Homo sapiens: one gene and its partner. The protein of the gene in region 1 purifies or fractionates together with the protein of each later gene. This does not show direct contact. Each region holds a gene or a part of one and is shown on either strand. Other genes may lie near its edges.

Region 1 (3,647 bases):
TGGAGGTAGCATGGCCATCCTGCTCCTCTCCAAAGCCACTGAGGGCTGGGTCCGTGGTAACTGCCACAGTGGCAGTGCCTCTGCCAGGCCTGCCCCTGGGCAGCCACATCACCCACCCCGAAGGGCCTCCAGGTTTTTCCCAGAATCCAAGCTAGAGCTTTGCTGCTTCCTGCCCTAGACCCCCCTCACATGTACATGTCTTTCCCTTGCCACGGGCTTTGCAGGGTTCTGGTGAGCGGCTATTCTCATCCCTTGACATGTCCTTGAGGGCCTTACACTCCCCACCTGAGCTTCCCGGGGTTCCAGTCTCCTCCTCAGCCTCTCTGTATTCCCCTGGCCCTGCTCCAGGCCCAGCTATCCCAACTGTGACTCACTGGTGACACTGAACGGGGTAATCACCCAGGACCATGAAGATGGTAACGCTGGATACTGCAAGTGACAGAGTTTGCAGCCTGTCATAGCCCACCCTGGCCCAGGAGAAAAGGCTCTACTCCACCCCCAGCCCCCGCCTCCTGCCTCCCCCTGTTGCTCACCCCCGAGGCCAAGCCATGTCACTCAGGGGTTCAGCAGTTCCAGCCAAATGGGGAGGAGTCCCTGAAGCACACATCCCTTGGGCAGAGACTGCTGGGCCTCCAGCACACCTTAACCGGTCCTGCTGCAGCGTCTCACCTTCTTGAGTTTCTTGGTTTTGACCTCCACCTCCTGCTGCAGGGATGTGTAGGTGCCCCGGAGCTCCATAGTCTCCTCGTCCCGGAGCATCATCTCCTGCTGCATCTCCCGCTCACGACGTTTCTAGGCCAAGGACGGGCAGTGTGGCTCAAAGGAGCAGTGCATACTCGGGAGGGCCAGGAAAGCTCAGGGGACTGGCTCACTCTGCCTGTCTCGGGACCTGGCTTCACCATGGCCCATGGCCCACATCCACTGCTCCCACCCAATCCTGCAGAGCCCCTGGGAACCCTCCTCTCAGTTCCCAGGGCCATGCCTTTGCCAGGCTCTGCCCCATGTGGATGGAGACCCCAGCCCCTAAGAGCTGGCCTACTCCAGAGGCGTTAGTCACACAGATGGAGGCACATCACACTGCCTTCCAAGCTGCCTCACCCTCTCCCCAAGTAGTATAATGGTTGATTGGTAAGACCAACAAACTGTGGCTCTTGATGATTTAGGGAAACAGTCATACAGTTGGCAAAGAACTCACACCACCTTGTGGAAGGCCCAGGAATTAGTACCAGGTGGCTTGTGGAGGCTGATGTTATGGAGAGCTATCACGTCCTCTCGCCCACCAGCTAGCAGTGCCCCTGCCAAAGGGAAGACCCTGGGCTAGTAGACCTGTGGGACCCAGGGTGGCATGTCTGAGATTCTCAGCACTGTAATTCCAGAGATCCAGAGTCCACCATGGTTTACGGCCCTGCACCTCCCAGACATGAGCTGCAGGCCACACTCTCCAAGGGGACCTGGCACCTGGAGGCCCTACCTGCTCGGCAATCTCCTGCCTCTTCAGTTCCAACATCTTCTGCTGTTCGTTGGTGTGATCCATGATGTTCCTGCCCCCGATGAGGAGCTTGCTCTCCATGGCCTGGGGACACAGAGGGGTTGGGAGGTGGGCTTTGCAAAGGGTCCACAACATTGCTAGCTGGAGAGATTTTGCTTCCCTGCTCTGTGGTCCTTCTGGGAGTGGACACCAGATGTGTCCCAGATGGGGCCTTGTGGCTTTCAGGGAGAATGGAGTTTTCCCCTCTAGTGTCTCAGGTCCCAGCACAAGGCTCTTATTGTCAGCAGGAACACTAGGGAGGCACAGAGGGTGCCCCTCGGGGAATCTAGGGCAACTGGTCTGTTTGCTTTGGGTACACAGGAAAGGTTGGTCCACCAGGGCTAGGAGGAGGATGGGGGTGGCAACCTAATCCTGGCAACCAGGACCCAGCTGGTGTTGAGGATTGGGAAAGATAAGATACAGTCACCAGGTAGCCCAGCCTTTAGCTAACTGGCTTCCAACTCAGGAAGACAGCTCTCAACACAGGCAGCAGGAAAGGGTCTAAATCTTCAGCTGATGTGGAAAGCAGAAGAAAAGCCAAAGGGAGCAGACTGCACAGCAAGAAGGAACAGCACGGGCCCAGCACAGCAGGAGCTTTGGAGAGGGCCGGGAAGACTTGGTTCTACCCACTTACCTCGAGGCTTTGGGCAAATTAATCCCTTCAGGTCTGTCATCTACAATATTGGAACACCGCCTATGTTCCAGGATGGCTGGCAAACATTTGTGGAGCGCTAAGTATCTATTAGATGCTGAGCTAAGCCTTTAACACCATGGTTTCCATCCCCCCCTAAGAGGGACTATTCTCCTCCGCATTTAATAAATGAAGACATTGAGAATGACCAGCCTAAGGCCATGCAGCTATTGAGTAGCAAAGAGGAGAGATTTGAACCTCGTACCCCCAGTCTCACTCTGTGAAAGCCCCTAGTCAGTGCTTTGGAATCTGAAGCTGAAATAATGTCAGATTTGTGTAAACTGTGACTACATAAAATGTATTTTCAAGAGGGTGCTGTCGGCAGCCTTTCAAAACCTATTCTGGTTTGGGGGGGTGCCCGATTTGAAATTTTAGAAAATGAAAATAAAATAAGAAGAAGGTGCTGTCCCAGGGTACCCAGTTGTCCTCTGGCTTCATCACGGGCCTCCTGGAAGGTTGAAATCACCTTGAACCAGTGGAAAAAGCTGGCTGCTTCTCCACTGGAATTTTTCCCAGTGGAAACAGCTGACCTACCTGAGGGATCTCAAAGCAGGGGGTGCTGTCAGACTTGGGGAGCAGGAGACCACCTGTAAGAGCCACATCATTGGGAACACAGCCAGACAGGGGTTAACAGTGGCTTTTGGGAGGTCAAGGAATGGGCTGTGTGAGGCTTTGTCACCCAAAGACGCTGAGCAAGTTGGGCCCGCCAGAGAGGCACGAGCTTCATTCCAGCCCCACACAGCCTCAGAGGCCAAGGCAGGAGGAAGAGGCCTTGAGCCCTGGAGGCTGTCCATGCTGCCACACTGCAGCCGCCTGCGCTCCTGGTTAATGATCTCCCCTCTTACCGCATTGCCTTGCCACAGACCTAAACCCATCCTAGGCTCCTCCTTCACACTCCAGGTCAGCATTTGCAGGACCATGAGAGGGAAGAATCCCTTACACTGCATCCTCAGCGACTCACCTGCCTCGCCTCATCCCTGCCCTGCCTCTCATCCGTTGCATCTGGCCAGTGAGTCAAGGCCATCAAATCTGCTCCTCAGTGCGGCTCCCACCACCCCCCATTTTTCATTCTCACTGCTACCTGCTGGCTTCATTGCAGCCCCCACAACTCTCCTGGACCACTGCTGTGGTCTCCCCACTGCCTCAGTGTCCCCTTCCACCCCTCTGCCACATGACACCCAGGCAGATCCACTAAAAACACAACCCTGGGCTGGGGACGGTGGCTCATGCCCGTAATCCCAGCACTTTGGGAAGTTGAGGTGGGCGGATCATCTGAGGTCAGGAGTTCGATACCAGCCTGGCCAAAATGGAGAAACCCCAGCTCTACTAAAAAGACAAAAATTAGCTGGGTGTGGTGGCGTGCACCTGTAGTCCTAGATACTCAGGAGGCTGAGGCAGGAGAATCGGTTGAACTAGGGAGGCAGAGGC
Region 2 (3,647 bases), on another chromosome or scaffold:
CAGCCAAGCGTACCGTCATCTAGGGAGGCTTCAGACGGCTCTGGAAGGAGCTGGGCCTGGGCAGACCCAAGAGCCGTGTGGGGGCTGCCGCGGGAGGGCAGGGCGTTGGGTCCCAGGTGGAGGGCTGAATGGGGCGATGCAGCCGGGTGTTGCAGCACAGTGGGGTGGGAGGAAGTGGGGCTGGGGGCGCTGGTCGGCTGTACCCCGTTAGCCGACACCTGCTGCACGCCAGGACATGTGGATTTCATCCTGGTGACAGGGAGCAAGCAGAGACCCATGCGGTCCCTGGTGGCCACAGTGAGGTGGCCGGATGGTGGTTAGGTCGTGGGCTTATCTGGGAGTGGATGGTAGGGGTGGCTTGGACAGTTGGCGGTATCCCCTGGTCACTTGGGGAGGAGGGGTTGGGGAGGTGTCCAGCTCTGGGAGGCCAGCAGGGTCTGCTGAGCCCTAGGAGGCCAAGGCTTGCAGATGGCGTGGTGGTTGGGGTGAGAGGCTCCCCACTGGGTGCAGGTTCAGCCCTGCTCACCTGGCCTGCTCCCTCTTCAGGCCTCTAGTAGAGTGGGGCATAGGCAGGGGATGGGGGAGGTTGCTTCCTGCTGGTGGGGCCTTGCTCGGCGCCCCCCGGACTCCTGCCAGGAAGAGTGGGTTTGGGAGGCCACCAGCTTCACCGGCTGACCATTTCGGAGTGCACAGCTGAGGGGCTGCTGCGGTCCTGCCTCACTAGAGGGAAGGGCGTAATTGATCTCGTCGTTTTTTTTTTTTTTTTTAATGTTTTTAGAAACAGGGCCCTGCTTCCCTCCCAGGCCAGAGTACAGTGGTGCAGTCACAGCTCATTGCAGCCTCAACCTCCTGGGCTCAAGTGACCCTGCTGAATAGCTGGGACTACAGGTGCATGTCACTGTGCCTGGCTAATTTTTAATTTTTTTGTAGGGACAGGGTCTTGCTTTGTTGCCTAGGCTGGTCTTGAACTTCTGGGCTCAAGTGATCCTCCTGCCTTAGTCTCTTAAAGTGCTGGGATTACAGGTGTGAGCCACTGTGCCCAGCCAAACTCATAGTTAAAGACCAACGTGAGGCTGGGCGTGGTGGCTCATGCCTGTAATCCCAGCACACTGGGAGGCCGAGGCGGGTGGATCACCTGAGGTCAGGAGTTCAAGACCAGCCTTGGCAACATGGCAAAACCCCGTCTCTACTAAAAATACAAAAATTAGCTGGGTGTGGTGGCGAGCGTCTGTAATCCCATCTACTCGGGAGGCTGAGGCAGGAGAATCACTTGAACCCAGGAGGCAGAGGTTAGATCGTGCCATTGTACTCCAGCCTGGGCGACAGAGTGACATTTTGTCTCAAAAAAAAAAAAAAAAAAAGACCAGCGTGGCGGCTGCATGGAGTGAGAGGAGAGGGTCCTGTCTGAGGAAGGGGTGGGGAAGGCGTCCCACTCACTTGCCCACCACTGGCCCAACTGGCAAGCGTGGTTGAGTCACTGTGCCTGGCAGCCTGCCGGCTCCTGGGGATACTGCAGTGAAGGTGAAGAGATGATGAGGCTGGAGCCGCCTTCCAGTGGTGGAGACAGGCAGCCACTGGAGTGCTTGTACATCAGCCAGGAAGGTGCTCCTGGGTGGAAAATGCCTTCTGAGGAACAGGCAGGGGGAGAGCACAGGGCCAGCTGCAGAGAGGTGGTTGGCGAGTGGGAGGGCTTCTCTGAGGAGGTGACCTGAGCAGAGAGGAGCGAATAGGGCTCAGCTCTGAGGCCGAGGTGGAGGTGGGAACGAGCTTACTGTGTTCTGGAGCACAAGGAGGCTGTGGGGCCAGTTCACCATCTGGGAGTGTGGCTTGGAGGGGATGCAGCCAACGGGGCAGAGGGACCAGGTCCTGGGAAAGGGTCTTGTAGGCCACAGGAGGGAACGGGGGGTTGGTTCTGGTTACGTTGGGAAGCCAGGGAGGGACAGGGGAGGACCCTGGGAGGGGCGTGTCCAGGGCCCCGGGGTGTCTGGCAGGCCCGAGTGGGCAGAGTCGGGAGGACCTGTGCGTGAGGCCACTGACGCCAGGCCAAGGAGCGGAGTCCGCAGGCTCTCAAGCAGGCAGGGAGCCCGTGGAGATGTGCGCGGAGGTGAGAGGCCGAGCCTGCGTCCTGGCCTGGTCACTCAGGCGGCTGACCCCAGAGACAGCCACCGTGAGACTCCAAGCTGGCCGCAGGGGAGGTGGGCGTGGCCAGGGCGTCTGCTGAGGAGATGGGAGGCTGGGGCCCAGGAAGCTGTTGAGTGGCTCCCCCAGGTGCCCTCCTGCAAGGCCCACCGTCTCCATGCCTGCCTGCCTGCCTAGGAACTGAGGCCTGCCTGTCCTCTGCCTTGGCCAGTGGGCTTCTGGGCAGGGCCCAGCTTTGTTTCGTTGAACGCTGCAGTGCTCTGGTGAGCCAGTGAGCCCTTCCCAGGCCCTCCTTCAGCCCTCCCGGGTGGCCAAGGCCTCCATCGGCTGGGGTGTTCGTTCCTGGATGCTGGGGTCGTGTGGGCTGTGGATGGGGCAGCCAGGTGGGACTGCTCCTTCATTTGGCTGTTGGGAGTTTTCTTTCCCCATTTTCTGCCCAGCAAAAGCTTAGTTCCAGCTCCACCTCTCCTCTTCAAGGAGACGGCAGTGTCCCAGTGTCCAGCTGGGGACGACTGCCCTGTGGACTTATGCACCAGGGACAGGGGCTTCTGAAAGCTGCCAGGCAGCCCTGCTGCCGCCTCCCTCCCCCGCCGCACTTCAGCCTTGCCGTGCGGCCCAGTGGCCAGCAGAGGGCATGCTTGCCCCTCCTATCGCCTCCGTCCACCCTTTTTTGGTAATCGCGTAATTTCCTTTTTATGTGAAAGAAAGCAGATACCAAGTAATTTGCAGCAATAACCTGCTAATGCTGGGCCAGTATCGAAACTCCCCTGTTCATTTCAAGTGGCAGATAAAACGCTAATACATAATTATCCTTGCAAATTGGATTATTTTAAATAACCAAAAGGCTACGGCCAGGAGAAAGCGATCCCATCTCCCCTGAGTTACTATTGCAGCGTAATTGCCGCGTTCAATCAATTTCCCTGGCATTAGAAATTCCGTCACAATCAACATTAAGCTTTATTCATTGTGATGGCTAAGAGCCGGGCCATTTCTCCTCTTTTTCTTAACTGGCAAAATTAATCAGGGAAAAGATTTTAAACATTTACCCGTGCGAAAGAGGTCAGCCCTGCCACTATATTGCTCAGCAGATAAGGGGGCTAATAAAAAGAAAATTGAATTACTAATGATCACCAAGAACAGAGTATATAAAACCTGGCCATCGCCAGTTCAGGAAAAGGGAGAATCAATTTTCTTGGGACAAGGTGCGTTCATTTTTTATTTTGGCGCATATTATCAGCAATTTAATTTGAGAGGCATAAACAGGAGGAAACAGTTAGGGAATAATGAGCCTGGAGGTGTAAAGTGCCACAGGATATATGCTGTACACAATTTATTTGGCACAACAGATAATCGCTTTAATTGAATTCAAAAGTGCATTGTTCAGCAGCACTGTGGCCGCTCACGCCTGGGGACTGAGACTGTTTGGAAGGTTTCAGCCTGACTCTTCGGTGCCTCTCCTCCCCTCCCTGCCTCTCCCGGCCCTCCGAAGTCCTCTGGGCCTGGAGTCA

The links.
Region 2: the proteins of KIF3C (region 1) and ZC3H3 purify together in Homo sapiens (affinity purification with mass spectrometry; one large-scale study listed by BioGRID and IntAct). This does not show direct contact.

The regions. Positions count from the first base shown.
Region 1 is NC_000002.12:25,954,872-25,958,518, forward strand, and holds part of KIF3C (kinesin-like protein KIF3C), read right to left. Parts: intron 1,574-3,647; coding exon 1,472-1,573; intron 793-1,471; coding exon 670-792; intron 1-669.
Region 2 is NC_000008.11:143,531,400-143,535,046, reverse strand, and holds part of ZC3H3 (zinc finger CCCH domain-containing protein 3), read left to right. Parts: intron 1-3,647. UniProt on the Homo sapiens protein: Required for the export of polyadenylated mRNAs from the nucleus. Enhances ACVR1B-induced SMAD-dependent transcription. Binds to single-stranded DNA but not to double-stranded DNA in vitro. Involved in RNA cleavage.